Regions from separate parts of the Homo sapiens genome. Here region 1 is linked to region 2. Evidence: fine-mapped QTL for protein levels in blood plasma. Region 2 holds a variant in brackets. A gene starts in the other region. All regions are shown on their reverse strands.

The links. PIP is the posterior inclusion probability: the model's chance that the variant is causal. Protein levels are from antibody-based Olink assays in UK Biobank. Linkage for the fine-mapping came from a reference panel and not from the study's own genotypes, which makes the PIPs less certain.
Region 1: CRYBB2 starts here. The variant in region 2 is fine-mapped to the plasma level of the CRYBB2 protein (UK Biobank, PIP 0.99).

The regions. Positions count from the first base shown.
Region 1 is chr22:25,214,571-25,223,057 of GRCh38, reverse strand. It overlaps CRYBB2 (crystallin beta B2), which reads right to left and starts at 3,419. Exons shown (of 6, transcript NM_000496.3): 1 at 3,392-3,419; 2 at 1,575-1,654. The coding sequence starts at 1,628.
Region 2 is chr20:33,795,361-33,803,847 of GRCh38, reverse strand. It overlaps ZNF341-AS1 (ZNF341 antisense RNA 1), which reads left to right. Exons shown (of 4, transcript NR_110623.1): 2 at 5,853-5,930; 3 at 8,232-8,334. Among named protein-coding and RNA genes, the nearest start is that of ZNF341-AS1, 11 kb to the left of the region's middle. The variant G/A (reference allele first, on the strand shown) is at 4,552.

The DNA of each region.
Region 1 (8,487 bases), not on the chromosome of region 2:
ATAGAGTAGAGGGCAAAATTTTACAAATTATCCAATCCTTTAAGCCTGCACTGTCCCACACAGCAGCCATTAGTAACATATGGCTACTGAGCACATGTAATTAGTCCATATTATTACTTATACTGTGCTATAAGCGTAACATACACATCATATTTTGAAAATTCAGAATGGAAAAAATAATGTAAAATATCTGCCTAATAATTCTTATATTGATTATACATTAACATGCTCATCTTTTGGATATATTGGGTTTCATAAAATGTAATATGAAAATTAATTTCACCTATTTCTTTTTACTTTTTATGATGTGGCTACTAGAACATTTTGCATTACCTATGTGGCTCACATTATAGGTCTAGTGGACAGAGCTTCTTGCTTTTTTCCAAACTCACCCAGTTCATTCCCACCTCGGAGTCTTTGCGCCTGCTGTTCCTTTTGTCTGGATGCTCTCATCAACCCTGACCCCCATTTTTCATTTTTCTGTGGAGATGGGATCTCACTATGTTGCCCAGGCTGGGCTCAAACTTTTGGGTTCAAACAGTCCTCCCACCTCGGCCTGGCAAAGGCACCCCCAATTTTCATATAGCCGCTTCCTCACTTGACCCAGGTGTCTGCTCAAAGTCAGCTCCTCAGAGAGACCCTCCTGGACCACCTGAGCTAACACAACCACTGTGACTCTCAGGAGCCCCTTCCCCTAGTTTACAATTGTTTGTAGCACTTCTCACTACTGGAAATCATATATTCATTTATTTATTGTCTGTCCTTCTTCTGGAAAGTAAGCCCTAAAAGGGACAGATTGGGGTGAGCAGGTGAGGGGCTGTATCTGCTCAGGCTTCCCTGGCCCAGGAGGCACTGAGTCAGACAAAGGGGCCATTCCTGAAGGAACCTGTGCCCGGGGCTACCAAAGCAGGGAGGCACAGGAGGGCAGTCAGGTGGCCGTGCCTAGATAGAGGTTTGAGGGCAGACTGGGTGTGACAAGCCTCTGACGTTGGGATAAGATCCTGCCGCCCTTGGGTGGACAGGTGGATGAGAAATCAAAGGCGGCATTATTTGCTGGTGTTAGGTGGATGCGCACCCCAGGCCGGGTGTTAGGCTGAGCCTGGTTTCTTTGGCTCTCACAACTTCCCTGTGCAATAAATCTGACTCCTCCTTTTATAGAGATGGAACTGAGGCTCAGAGGGATCAAATAATTGGCCCGGATCACACAGCAGGTGCAGAGCCAGGACTCACACCCACCTTCCATCTACTAATCCCATCTCTGACTGAGAATGAGGGTCTGCTCCAGTTTCAGGGAGCCCTGTAGACAATAGGGTGTGGCAAAACAGGTAAGGGAGAGAGAAACTGAAGTCTCCAAAGCCAGAGGCTGGTACTGGGAATCCCAGCATGCCAGCTATGGGCTGGGGAGGGACTTTCAGTATCAGCTCCAACTGTGTGGGTAGAGGAGACTGAGTCCCAGAGAGGGGCAGGGGTCGAGAGGGGGTACCCATGAAGAAAGATGCCAAGCCCATTTTACAGAAGGGCAACTAAGTCTGGGGGAGGAGCATTGCATGCCCCCTCCTCTGAGAGGTACCCACCTTGGGGTTGAGGGACTGTGGCTTGCCCGCCTGGGTCTGGTGATCTGAGGCCATGGTGGACTGTCCTGTGCAGGAATGACCTGGAAGACATGGGAAGCAGCAGTGAGGACCTGGAGGGGCCACTGGCTTTTTCACTCTGTGGGGCCTTGAGACCACTCCCCTCTGGCCCCAAACATTCTCTTTTTCTCCTGGTTTCAGACTGTCCCAGAGCTGTGGGGTCCGTAAGCAGCTACTTCAACTTCTGTCCTTAGCTTCATTTATTTCTATCCAGGCCAGCTGCAGGAGGAGGGAAAAACGAGGTCTACTCAAAGAAAGAGAGCAGTAATAAACTAGAGCTTAAATGAGGTCCAAAGTGGGTTCCCAACACTCAACCCCAGACAATGGATACCACACAGAATATAGAATGGTCAATCCCAGAACTTCTGCCTTTATGCAGTAATTTCTTAAATAAAATTGTGTGGAACAAACAAAACCTATGCATTGGCTGTATTTGGTGGTGTGGTGGTGCCCAGTTTAGGAACTCACAAAGTTCCCTGTTCCCCTGCTCCTTCTCCCACCCTCTCCCTGGGACTCCTCTCCCCATCCTGGTACCTAGATTTCTCTTCTCTGCCACTGGTTTTACTCCCCCATTAGTGAAATCATCTGATACAGAACCCACATTACAAGAAAGAGAAGAAATGGGTGCGACGGTAGAAATCCAGGCACTGTGGCAGGCAGCAGGGTAGACCTGCCTTAGCTAGTGAGAACATCAGAAAAGCCTGGAAAATTGTCAGCCTCTTCCCCCTTCCTGCAGAAGGGGTGGTCAAACCAGGCTGTGTTTCCCCAGGGGTAAGAGAGGAAGCCTGGCCTCCCTCTTCAGAGATAACGCCAGCTTCCAGAAGCCCCTTCCACATGAAAGGCCAATACTGGATGTTTCCCAGGAGGAAGAAATGCAGTTAAGCACCTTGGCAGCCAAATCTACTGCTCTCCCGCAAGAAACCAGCCCTCTGGGCTTGTCAGAGTGCCTGAGGTCCTGCCATATCACTTCCCAGTCCTGAGTGTTCACAGACTGAAGAAGCTCAGTTGGTCCAGTTCAGGAGCAGTCTCTGCTGCCTGCCAGAATTGAGACTCTGGGCAGGTCTCATCCTCTCCCTATGCCTCAACTTCCTGTTCTATAAAATGGGGACAGTAATGATGTCTAATAATACCTGTGAACAGGTTGTGAGGATTCAATTATGTAATGTATAAAACCGGAAGCACTTGGCCGTGGTCCCAGAACACACTCAGCATGCAGCAAATGGCAGCAATTGTGGCATTATTAGAGTCATTTCTACCATGCTTTAGTGGCATTGAAATCACCTGTTGCTGGGACCTGTCACATACCTGTGGCTGCATCCTATCCCCTAGCACTCCCAGAGGCTAGGCACAGAGTGGGTGCCCCCTAATTGCAGATGTGGAGGAAAACTGACTCACCCACCTAGAAACAATGCTGAACTGTCACTGGTTTGATTCTTGCAAAACCCTCAGTTACATTCTCCTCCTCAGCGACTGGCGAAACAAGGATGCTGATAGTCTGTTTAATATTAATAATAAAGAACATTGCCCCAATGCCCACTGTGTGCCAGGCACTGTGCTGGATGATCCCCTAACTTCTCTTGAATCCTTACAATAAAGAAGGCTTTTTAACCCCCTTCCCAGTTACCAGAAAAGAAAACTGAGGCTAACAGCATTGAAGTCTCTGCCCAAAGTCACTTGTCAGAATCTGGGTGCTCCCATGCTTGCGGACAGGGGTGAGGATGAGAGAAAGAAGGGAAGACAAGCAAGAGAGGCAATCTTACCAGTGACACCAGCCCCTGCGAGTGCCGTGAAGCTCGGCCAGCGGGAGGTGGCATTTATACCTTCCCCAGAAGTGCCGGTGCCAAGATGAGTGACCGCTGTGCTCCTGCGAAAAGCAGGGTGAGAATGCTGGATTAAGCTCTCACCAAAGCTCGGGTCAGCAAATGCCCACAGACATTGTGTCTCTGCACAATAATGTCATTAGCTTTCAGATTCGGCCGCGCCAGGGCGGTCAGGCGGCTGGGCAAGGAGATGCCCGCTTTGCATGCATCAGCCGTCCGGCTGCCAGGGCCAGGGGTACGCTGGGTTCACTGGTACGGTCAGTCAGGCCGTGAGGCATGGCAGACAGAGGAACATCTCAGTGGGCCTGGGGAAGAACAAGTAAAGAAGGGTGGTTTGGCAGAGTCTGGGCTTCATTCATCTACCCATTTATTCATTCAACAAATATTTGTTGGGCATCCACTTGGTGACAATCTCTGTTCCAGGGGAGTGTCAGGAAGAGGACCTACGCCAGCCCAGGCCATTCAGAAAAGCTCCTGGGAGGTAGCGCATCCCTCAGGGATGGAGAAGAGGAAGCCTGGGAACAGGGTGGGGGGACAGTTCCAAGCAGAAAGGGTCCATATACAAGGAACCAGCATGGTGTATTTCAAGAAGACCTGAAAACAGGTTAACAAAGCTAAAGCATGACATGTGACAAATAGGGCCTGTGCCAGGTGGCCAAGGTGGGCAGGGCCTGATGTTGCAGGGCCAGGGAGGCCAATTATGGAGAGTGCATTTTATTCTCAAGGCCCCTGGCTGTTTCTCTTTCTTTTCTTTCTTTCTTTCTTTCTCTTTCTTTCTTTCTTTCTTTCTTTCTTTCTTTCTTTCTTTCTTTCTTTCTTTCTTTCTTCTCTCTCTCTCTCTCTCTCTCTCTCTCTCTCTCTCTCTCTCTCCCCTCTCTCTCTCTCTCTCTCTCTCTCTCCCCCTCTCTCTCTCTCTTTCTTTCTTTCTCTTTCTTTCTTTTGAGATGGAATCTCACTCTGTCACCCAGGCTGGAGTGCAGTGGTGTGATCTCGGCTCACTGCAACCTCTGCCTCCCAGGTTCAAGCGATTCTCCTGCCTCAGCCTCACCAGTAGCTGGGACTACAGGTGTGCGCCACCAGGTCCAGCTAAATTCTTTTTTTTGCTGTATCTTGTTAGAGACAGGGTTTTGACATGTTGCCCAGGGTGGTCTCAAACTCCTGAGCTCAGGCAATCCATCCACCTTGGCCTCCTAAAGTGCTGGGATTCCAGGCATGAGCCACTGCACCCGGCCTGTTTCTTAACCACTGTCCTAGAGTGAGTTGCTCTTAGATCCCTACCACTGGCCCCATCGCTGCCACATGGGTGCCCAGCCTTTACTCACATTTCTTTTCTATTTTTTTTTTTTTTGAGATGGAGTCTCGCTCTGTCGCCCAGGCTGGAGTGCAGTGGCACGATCTCAGCTCACTGCAAGCTCTGCCTCCCGTGTTCACACCATTCTCCTCCTTCAGCCTCCCTAGTAGCTGGGACTACAGGCGCCCGCCAACACGCCCGGCTAATTTTTTGTATTTTTAGTAGAGACGGTGTTTCACTGTGTTAGCCAGGATGGTCTCGATCTCCTGACCTCATTATCCGCCCGTCTCGGCCTCCCAAAGTGCTGGGATTACAGGCGTGAGCCACCGCGCCCGGCCTTTACTCATGTTTCTTTAGTGCACACACCTTCCTTGCAGCCCAGGCTGTGTCTTGATCCAATCTGAGGCTTGGAGACTGGGTCAAGTATACCTGCTTTCCCCTGTCTCTCATTTTCTTAATGCACATATGCATGCACACGCATGCACACACACTACACACACATGCCCCAGCCCCCTAGCTGGGCTTTTCCTTTTGCAGCACTCATCACTACCCAACATTCTGTTACTCATTTATTTTCTGTCTTTCCAATGAGAAGATAAGCACCACAAAAGCAAAGAAGTTGTCCCCCTGGTTTACCATGGTATCTCCAGAGCCCAGTGCCTGACGCATAGTAGGTACTTGTTTTAAAATCCCAGGGCTGGCCGGGCACAGCGGCTCACGCCTGTAATCCCAGCACTTTGGGAAGCCAAGCCAGGCGGATCACCTGAGGTTGGGAGCTCGAGACCTGCCTGAGCAACATGGAGAAACCCCGTCTCTACTAAAAATACAAAATTAGCCGGGCATGGTGGCACATGCCTGTAATCCCAGCTACTCGGGAGGCTGAGGCAGGAGAATCACTTGAACCCACGAGGCAGAGGATGCAGTGAGCCAAGATCATGGCATTGCACTCCAACCTAGGCAACAAGAGCAAAACTCTGTCTCAAAGAAAATAAATAAATAAATAACATAAAATAAATCCCAGGGCTGCTGTAATAAAGTGTCACAAACTAAGTGGCTTAAAAACAACAGAAATTGGGAATGTAAAATGGTGTTGCCACTACGGAAAACAGTGTGGCTGTCTCAAAAAAAAAAAAAAAATCCAACATAGAATTACCATATGAGCCAGCCATTCCACTTCTGTGCACGTGCCCCAAAGAATTGAAAGCAGGGAATTGAAGAGATATTTACACACCCATGTTCATAGCAGCATTATTCACAATAGCCGAAAGATGGAAACCACCCAAATGTCCATCAACGGATGAATGGATAAACACTATGTGGTCTATCCATACAATGGAATATTATTCAGCCTTAAAAAGAAAGGAAATTCTGACTCCAACATGATGAGGTTTGAAAATGTTATGCAAAGTGAAATAAACCAGACACAAAAGGACAAATATTGTATGATTCCACTTACATAAGTTACCTAGGGTAGGCAAATTCATGGAGACTGGAAGTAGAATAGAGGTTACTGGGGGCTGGGAGGAGCGGGGAATGGGGAGTTATTGTTTAATGGGTACAGAGTTTCTGTTTGGGATGATGGAAAAGCTGGGGATGGATAGTGGTGATGGTCCCATAACAATGCCACTGAACTGTACTCTTAAAAATGGTTAAAATGGTTAATTTTATGCTATGCAGTATTTTACCACAAAAATGTCCCCCAAAAAACCCCAGAAGTTTATTGTTGTGTAATTCTGGAGGCTGGAAGCCTGACATCAAGCTGTCAGCAGGGCCATGCCTGCTCCAGGGGTTCTAGGTGAGGGTCCTTCCTTGTCTCTCCCAGCCCTTTGTGTTTGCCGGTAATTGTTCATGTTCCTTGGATGGGAGGTGCATCACTTTAATCACGTGACTGTCTTCTCCCTGTATCTTCACATCATCTTCCCTTAGTGCATGGCTGATTCTATGTCTAAATTTCTGTGCCTATAAGGATACCAGTCATGTTGGCTTAGGTGACTTCACTAGGCAACTTCACCCTGATGACTTTGTTTCAAATTGGTTCCTTCTGTAAAGACCCTATTTCCAAATAGAAGGTCACATTCTGAGGTACTGGGGGTTAGGACTTTGGAATATCTTTTATGGACACAGGTCAGCCCATAATAGACCTCAGTTAATATTTGTTGAGTAAATGAATGGATTCAAGACCTGGCTGTGTCCTTATAAATAAGAAAGAATTCCTAACATTTCGATTGTATCAGAGCTTGACATGAGTCAGGCACTGTCCATACTCATCTTTTTTTAATCCTCCCAACAAACTCAAGATGTAAGTATTGTATTTATTGATCATTCCATTTTATAAAAGAGAAAATTGAGGCTCAGAGAGACTAAGCCACTTGCCCAAATTTGCACAGCTAGTGAGTAGTAGGACTAGGCTTTATGGATTAAGCCCTGAAACTGTCTGGTTCCATTAATTCAATCCTCACAACTATCTTTGAAGTAGGTATTATTAATGTCCCCTAATACAGATAAGGAAGCTAAGGCTCATAGAGCTTAAGTAACTTGTTCGAGGTCACACAGCCAGGAAGTGGTAGGACCAGTGCTTGAACTTACATCAGTCTGACTTCAAGATAAACGTTCTTAACTTTTAAACTATAAAGCTTCCTACTGAGCTCTGGGAATTTAGTGAAGTTTTTCTTCTCCAGGCCTCAATTTCCCCATAAGAAATGAGGTCCTTGGTGCCAAGACCAGCTCGGTCAGGGAGACCCTAACCAGTGGCGCTAGAGGAATTAAAGACACACACACAGAAATATGGAGATGTGGAATGGGAAATCAGGGGTCTCATAGCCTTCAGAGCTGAGAGCCTCGAACAGAGATTTACCCATGTATTTATTAACAGCAAGCCAGTGATAAGCATTGTTTCTATAGATTATAGATTAACTAAAAGTATTCCTTATGGGAAACAAAGGGATGGGCTGAAATAAAGGGATGGGTCTGGCTAGTTATCTGCAGCAGGAGCATATCCTTAAGGCACAGATTGCTCATGTTATTGTTTGTGGTTTAAGAACGCCTTTAAGTGATTTTCCACCATGGGCGGGCCAGGTGTTCCTTGCCCTCATTCTGGTAAACCCACAAACTTCCAGCGTGGGTATCATGGCCATCACAAACATGTCACAGTGCTGCAGAGATTTTGCTTATGGCCAGTTTTGGGGCCAGTTTATGGCCAGATTTTGGGGGCCTGTTCCCAACACTTGGTCCCTGCACCATGTATTAGGTTGGTGCAAAAGTAATCATGGGTTTTGGCGTTACTTTTGATGGGAAAAACCACATTTACTTTTGCACCAACCTATTATTCTCATTGAGGAAGCAGTCAGGGTTTTCACTGGCTGATAGGAGTGGTAAAACATGCTAGGGAGATGTTTATTATTCCTATTTTTACAGATAAGCAAAGTGAGGCTCAGAGAGGAGACTTTCTTGCCCAAAGGCTCACAGCCACGAAGTGGTAGAGCTGGGATTTGAACTCAGAGATCAGGATTTGTAGACTCCAAAACCTTCAGCCTAGCCTACTTCTCTTCTCTTACCTCAGTTTCCCACACTTGCGAAGAATTAAATATTTTGGCCCATGGACATTATAGTATTTGTAATTATACCCTTTGTAAATGAGCCAATCATGTGAAGCCCTCAGTAGCGGCTCTTACAAATATTATAGAAAGCGCTCAGTAACTATAGCTTTTATGCTATTCATTATTATTACATCTGTGTGGATGGCAAT
Region 2 (8,487 bases):
GAGGTGTTCACATGGCTGTATACAAATTAATCAGTTTTTATACTTAAGACGATTGCCCTTTATGTATCTTATGTACTTTATTAAACATGTTATATTACAATTTAAAACAACATCTCCAGGCTGGGCATGGTGGCTCATGCCTGTAATCCTAGCACTTTGAGAGGCCGAGGTGGATGGATCACTTGAGCTCAGGAGTTCGAGACCAGCCTGGCCAACATGGTGAAACCCCAAGTCTACTTAAAAAATGCGAAAATGAGCCAAGCATGGTGGTGCACACCTGTAATCCCAGCCACTCAGGAGGCTGAGGCAGGAGAATCACTTGAACCCAGGAAGTGGAGGTTGCAGTGAGCCGAGATCATGCCACTGCACTCCAGCCGGGGCGACATAGCAAGACTCCATCTCAAAAATAAGTAAATAAGTAAATAAATAAATAAATAAATAAATAACATCTCTAGCTGGGCATGGCAGCTCATGCCTGTAATCTCAGCACTTTGGGAAACCAAGGTGGGAGGATTGCTTGAGGCCACAGTTCAACACCATCCTGGGCAACATAGTGAGATCTCTTCTCTAGAAAAAAATTTAAAAATTAGCCAGGCATGGTGGTGCAAGCCTGTAGTCTGGGCTACTTGGGAAGCTGAGGTGGAAAAATTGCTTGGGCCCAGGAGTTCAAAGCTACAGTGAGCTATGATGACGCCAATGCACTCCAGCCTGGGCAACAGAGGGAGACCCTGTCTCAAAAAAGAAACGAACAACAACAACAAAAATACACACACAAAGTATCTCTAATAAGAGCAGCAACAGAAGAATAGTTTTTATTTGCAAAGTGCCTTTGCACACAAAAATCCCATCTTATCTCCATCATCCCTCTAAGCCCCATGAAGTAAGCATTACTATCCACCTCCATTTTACAGTTGAGGAAACTGAGGCCCAAAGAAGTAGGAATTGACTAAAGTCACATGGTTAAAGATACCCAGCCATATATTTGTAACCTTCTTTGAAAACATTAATTATGAAATGAGGCCGGGCACGGTGGCTCACGCCTGTAATCCCAGCACTTTGGGAGGCCGAGATGGGCGGATCACCTGACGACAGGAGTTTGAGACCAGCCTCAACATGGAGAAACCCCATCTCTACTAAAAATACAAAATTAGCCAGGCGTGGTGGTGCATGCCTGTAATCCCAGCTACTCGGGAGGCTGAGGCAGGAGAATTGCTTGAACCTGGGAGGCGGAGGTTGCGGTGAGCCGAGATCACACCATCACACTCCAGTCTGGGCAACAAGAGTGAAACTCTGTCCCAAAAAATCAAAAAAATTATGAAATAAAACCTTAATTATGAAACTTGGTCTCACATAATTATACCAAATTAAATACAGAGGACTTCGCTGATTTTTAGTTGTAAAAAAGAGTTCATCCAACATTCTCTCCTGATTAAACAAAAAACAAACAAACAAAAAAACAAAACCTGAAACACTCAGCCAACTAGGAAGAGGAGAGAACTTCTCAACCTGGTAAAAGGCATCTGTGCAAAACCCACAGCTAACATCACACTTAATGGTGAAGACAAAGGCCGAAAGCTTTCCCCCTAAGATCAGGAATAAGATAAGGATGCCTACTCTCATCACTTCCAATCAACATTGTACTGAAAGTTCTTGCCAGGGCAATTAAGCAAGAAAAATAAATAAAAGGCATCCAGATTGGAAAAGCAGAGGTAAAACTATTTCTATTTGTAGATGACATGATCTCATATAGAGAAAAACCTAAAGAATACACAGAAAGCTATTAGAACTAAAATGAGTTCAGCAAAGTTCAACAATATCAACACACAAAAATCAGTTGTATTTCTGTACATTAGCAACGAGCAATATGAAAATGATATTAAGAATCATTTCCATTTACAATAGCATCAAAAATAATAAAACATTTAGCAATAAATTTAACCACGGAAAGGAAAGGCTTGTCCTCTGAAAAGTACCAAACCTTGTTGAAAGAAATCAAGGAAGACATAAATAAATGGAAACACATTCCATGTCCATGGATTAGAAGACTTAATTGTTAAGACAGCAACACTCTCCAAATTGCTCAACAGATTCAATACAAGTCTTTCAAAATCTGAGCTGCATTTTTTGCAGAAATGGACAAGTTTATCCCACACCTCATATGGAATCGCAAGAGACCCTGAATAGTCAAAACAATATTCAAAAAGAAAAATAAAGTTGAAAGATTCGCATGTCCTGATTTCAAAACTTACTGCAAAGCTACAATAAAGAAGTTTATCGATCAATTGAATAGAGTCAAGAGTACAAAAATAAACCTATACATCTATAGTCAATTGATTTTCAACAAGTGTGCTAAGACCATTAAATGGGGGAAGCATAGTCTTTTCAACAAATGGTGCTAAGACAGCTGGGTATCCAAATGCAAAGGAATGAGGCCAGGCCCTGTGGCTCATGCCTGTAATCCCAGCACGTTGGGAGGCCAAGGCAGGAGGATCGCAGGAGCCCAGGAGTTCAAGACCAGCCTAGGTAACATAGTGACACCCCAGCTATACAAAATAATAATAATAATAAATAAAATTAGCCGGGCATGGTGGTGTGTGCCTGTAGTCTCAGTTACTCAGGAGGCTAAGGTGGAAGGATCACTTGAGCCCAGGAGTTCGAGGCTGCAGTGAGCTGTGATTTCATCACTCTACTCCAGCCTGGGTGACAAAGTGAGACCCTGTCACCCAGGCTGACCCTATATGAAATGTCCAAAATAGTCAAATCCATAGAGATAGAAAGCAGATTAGTGGTTGCCAGGGTCCAGAGAGGGGGAAAAAGGAGAATGACTGCTTAATGGGTACAGGGTTTCTTTTTGGGATGACGAAAATGTTATGTAACTAGATTGTGGCGATGGTTACACAATATTGTGAATGTAATAAAAAAGAGCTGCATTGTATACTTTAGTTAAAATGGTGAGGTTTTTTTTTTTTTTTTTTTGGTAGATGGAGTCTCACTCTGTTGCCCAGGCTGGAGTGGAGTGGTGCAATCTTGGCTCACTGCAACCTCTGCCTCCCAGGTTCAAGCAATTATCCTGCCTCAGCCTCCTGAGTAGCTGAGATTACAGGTATTGCCACCACACCTGGCTAATTTTTTGCATTTTTAGTAGAGATGGGGTTTCCCTATGTTGGCCAGGGTGGTCTCAAACTCCTGACCTCAGGTGATCCGCCCGCCTCAGCATCCCAAAGTCCTGGGATTACAGGCATCAGCCACCGCACCCGACCAAAATGGTGAATTTTATGTCATGTGAATTTTATCTCAATTTTTATTTTTATTGTTTGAGACAAAGAGTCTCGCTTTGTTGCCCAGGCTGGAGTGCAGTGGCACAATCTCGGCTCACAGCAACCTCTACCACCCAGTTTCAAGTGCCCACCACTACACCTGGCTAATTTTTGTATTTTCAGTGGAGACAGGGTTTCCCCATTTTGGCCAGGCTGGTCTCGAACTCCTGACCTCAGGAGATCCGCCTACCTTGGCCTCCCAAAGTTTTGGATTACAGGCTACAAACACCACGCCCGGCCTTATCTCAATTTTTTTTTTTTTTTTTTTTTGAGACAGAGTTTCACTCTTGTTGCCCAGGCTGGAGTGCAATGGCACGATCTCGGCTCACTGCAACCTCCGCCTCCCGGGTCCCGGTTCAAGCAGTTCTCCTGCCTCAGCCTCCTGAGTAGCTGAGATTACAGGCATGCGCCACCACGCCCAGCTAATTTTTGTATTTTTAGTACAGACAGGTTTCACCATGTTGGCCAGGCTGGTCTCAAACTCCTGACCTCATGATCTGCCCACCTCAACCTCCCAAAGTGCTGGGATTACAGGCGTGAGCCACTGCGCCCGGCCCCTTATCTCAATTTTTAAAAGTGCGTTGAAGTAATGAAGAGGGAACATGTTTTGGTGCCTACCACACAGACCTAGATTAGAATTGGGGCTCTGCCATTCAGCCATGTGCTTTACCTGCCTTGGTTTTCCTGTCTGTGAAACAGAAATAACACTATATTCCTCACCAGGCCATTCTGATGATTCAGTGACAACACAGACAAAGGCCTTAGCACAGAGTATGTATTCAACAGATATTTATGAAATAATAACAACAGGAATAATAATCATTAACATCCACGGAGCTCTCACTCTGACAGCTTACATAGAATATCTCATTTATTTACTTATTTTTATTTTATTTTATTTTTTGAGACAGGGTCTCACTCTGTCACCCAGGCTGGAGTGCAGTGGCACGATCATGGCTCACTGCAACCTCTGCCTCCCAGGCTCAAGCGATCCTCCCACCTCAGCCTCCCGAGTAGCTGTGACCACAGGTGTGTGCCACCACACCCAGCTAATTTTTGTATCTTTTGTAGAGACAGGGTCTCCCTATGTTGCCCAAGCTGGTCCTAAACCGCTGGACTCAACTGATTCTCCCCCCTTGGCCTCTCAAAGTGCTGGGATTACAGGTGTCAGCCATCACGCCCAGCCAGATTATCTCATTTAATCATCCAACTATAGTTCTATGAGGTAGTTACA[G/A]ATTACAGCTGAGGAAACAGAAGCTTGGAGAGGTTGAATAACTTGCCGAAGATCACACCATTATTGAGTGGACTGGTTGGCACTTGAACCGTGAGAAAATAACAGAGAATCTTCATCAGCACTTTATGCTAAGCCAGACACTGAGCCGAGGATTTTACATGCATTACCTCATTTAGCCCACACAACAACTATATGAGGTAGGCTTTATTGTTCCCATTTTATACATTAACAGAGGTTGGACAGCTTGCCTAAGATCACACACTTGTAGGAGGCAGAGCTGGGATTCTTACTGTAAAGGCAACCAGTTTAGCCACTGTGCTATTCTGCCTACATGCAAATAATGAATGAACAGAGAGACACTCACACCTACAAACAGGTAAATAAATAAAGTGTGGTGGGCCTGGGAGCAGGTCTCACCTCCCAGGGGAGTGGGGCAAAGTAAGCGATGGGGGCAGGAAAGGCCCAACCCAGCAGAACTTGAGGGGTTAAGTGAGGAGTGAGGGGGAGGTGGGTGAAACTGTTGACCAGAAAGGACCCTACACTTGTGCTAATGGTGGGTTACAGGGCCTACTCCATACCCATTTGTCTGACCACATGCAGGCCATGCAGCAGGCCCTAGACGGCCACACAGGCTCCAGTCAATGACTGTGACTCCCTGGACTTTACCCCAGGGAAACCCTCATCCTCACCCAGGCGCAGGCCCAAGGCACAGGTAGACTAGAAGTCTACCTGCACGAGGAAGGAAAAGTCCACATCCAATCCCTTAGAATATCCTGTTGGCTCTATCATCAAAATATATCCAGAAAGCTATCATTTCTTACCATCTTCATTGCGGTTACTCTGGTCAAAGCCACCATCATCTCTTGCCTGCACTATTGCAGTAGCCTCCTGGTGGGCAGGATAATGGTCCTTCAAAGACGTCCATGTCCTCATCCCCAGAATCTCACCTTAAATGGACTTTGTAGAAGTGTTAAGGAGTTTGAAATGATGAGCTTATTGTGGATTATCCAGCTGGCCTCAATGTAATCACAAAACAGAAGCAAGAGGTTTCAGAGTCAGAGACTGGCAGGATGCTGCCCTTCTGCCTTTGAATGGAGAAAGGTGCCACAAGCCAAGGAATGCAGGTGGCTTCTAGAAACCGGAAAAGACAATGGAACAGATTCTCCCCTAGAGCCTCCGGAAGGACAAAGCCCTGCCAACACTTGATTTTAGTCCAGTGGGAACCATATCAGACTTCTGACCTCCAGAGTGATAAGATCTGTGTTGGTTTAAGCCACTAAGTTTCTGATTCTTTATTACAGAAGCAAGAGGAACCTAATACTCTTCCTCATTGGCCTTCCTGTCTCCATCTTTATTCCTTCCAGCTCATTCTCTACATGGTAAGCAGAGGTATCCTTTAAAAAATATGTGTTTGGCTGGGCACAGTGGCTCATCCCTATAATCCCAGCATTTTGGGAGGCCGAGGCAGGCGGATCACTTGAGGCCAGGAGTTCAAGACCAGCCTGGGTAACATGGTGAAACCCTATCTTTACTAAAAATACAAAAATTAGCTGGGCATGGTGGCATGCACCTGTAGTCTCAGGAGGCAGGGGCACGAGAATCGCTTGAATCTGGGAGTTGGAGGTTGCAGTGAGCTGAGATCACGCCACTGCACTCCAGCCTGGGTGACAGAGAGAGACTCTGTCTCAGGAAAAAAAAAATTATATATATATATTTTTTTGACATCTGACATATATATATACACACACATATATATATACATATATGTACACACACACACATATATATGTTTTGACACTGGACATACATATGTATGTCGGATCCAGTCACTGAATGCTCACAATCCTCCAATGGCTCTCCACGTCCCTCAAGTAAAACCCAAAGTCCTTTCAATGTCCCTCAAGTCCCTACATGATGTCATGATTTTCCTGTCACCTCCTTGCCCTCCCCCTTTCCAGTGCCTCACTCCAATCACACTGGCCCCTCTACTCTTCCTCAAACACACCAGCACCCTCCAAACTCTCAAAACCTCTACTCACCTCTACTTTTTTTCCTTCTCTATAGTCCTCGTCACCTCCTAACATCTATAACTTACTTATTTACTTTGTTGTTTATCTTCTGCTTCCTCCACAAAGGATCTCCACAAATGATTGTTTTGCTCATGATGTATCATCAAAGAACTATGCTTGGCACGTCATAGGTACTCAAGAAATATTTAATCAATAAATAAGTGGACTGAGGTAGCAGTGGCCTGGGAAGCAGCCTTGCCTTGATGAGACTTTGGACAAGACCTTTTCTCTCCCTGGGCCTGTTTATTCTCTGTGATTCTTCAAAGGACGCAAGGCCCTAAAGTTGGGTTCTGTGCCTAAGCCTACCTGAGGCACCCTCAGCTAGTAAGAAGTCACTGCCAATCCTTAGATGGAGCCTGCTCACCTCCCTGATCACCACCCTTCAGGCCCTGAAAGCCTTGTGTGTGGGGGGGTCACTTGCTGGCAGCCTTGGGGGTTGGGAGCACCCGTAGCTGCCACCTCCACTCCTTCCTCCCCAAAGGAGACAAAACTAGTCCAACCAGTTCCCTGGGCCACAGGGACACCTGCTCTGTCGACTTCCACCTGCTCTGTCGAGACTTCCAAGCCACCTGCCTTAGTCATTTGGCCCAGATATTCTCTGCTCCCTCTTTGAACAAAGGAAGATATCCTTTTATATCAGACATTACTTCCCAGGACCCTGGGTCAGTCATATCTCGGTCTACATGACAGATTCTCTGGTCTCCCTGGGGTGAGAGGAGCGGGTGGGTAAAGTGAGCCTTCTTCTCTCAAAGTGCTGTTGTTTATTCATTCGACAAATATTGATTGAACAATTCCTGGGAAGGTCTAAGCACTGTAGATACTTCAGGAACAAAACAGACAAAAGTCGATGCCTTTGTGGACCTTTTGTTTCTAATGAGGACAACAGACAATAAACAAATGTCTAATATAATGTCAAGGGTGACGTATAAAAATAAAATAGGGTAAGGAATTCGAGAATGATGGAGGTGGGGCTATGTTACACAGATTGGCCAAGGAAAACTTATCAGAGGAAATGAGTTTTTTTGTTTATTTATATATTTATTTATTTATTTTGAGACAGAGTCTCACTCCGTTGCCCAGGCTGGAGTGCAGTGGCATGATCTCAGCTCACTGCAACCTTCACCTCCCCAGTTCAAGTGATTCTCCAGCCTCAGCCTCCTGAGTAGCTGGGATTACAGGCACGCACCACCATGCTCGGCTAATTTTTTGTATTTTTTAGTAGAGACAGGGTTTTGCCACGTTGGCCAGGTTGGTCTCAATCTCCTGACCTCATGATCCACCCACCTCAGCCTGCCAGAGTTCTGGGATTACAGGTGTAAGCCACCACGCCTGGCCCAAATGTCCCAATTTTTTACATTTTCTAATTGCTTCTGGAGTATAGGAGCATAGTAGATTTGTATATATTGATCTTGCTATTATTTCAGCACCCTTGCTATTATCTCACCCTTTCCAATCCTGATACTATTTATTTCTTTTTCTTGCTCTATTATTCTGGCCAGGCCACTAATGTAATATTGGAGTCATAACAGCAGGCATCCTTGTGTCATTCCTGACACTTCACCACTGTAGTATATTTTAAATTTGTTTTTAAACGTTGGCTTACTTTTTCAGACACTGTGAATGCCAAACTGTCTGGAGGCTGCCATGAGCGGCCAATTTGTGATCTCTGCTTTACCTGAATTATTTCCGTGAATTGTGACATCAACCTCGCCAGGTAGGTACTATTATTCTCCACACTGACACAAGGAAACTGAGGTTCAGAAAGGTGAAGTGACTCGCCATAGTCACACAGCTAGGAGGGGGCAGAGCCAGAATTCAAACCCAGCTCTGCTTGATACCAAAGACTGTAATCTTTCTCTTTTTTTTT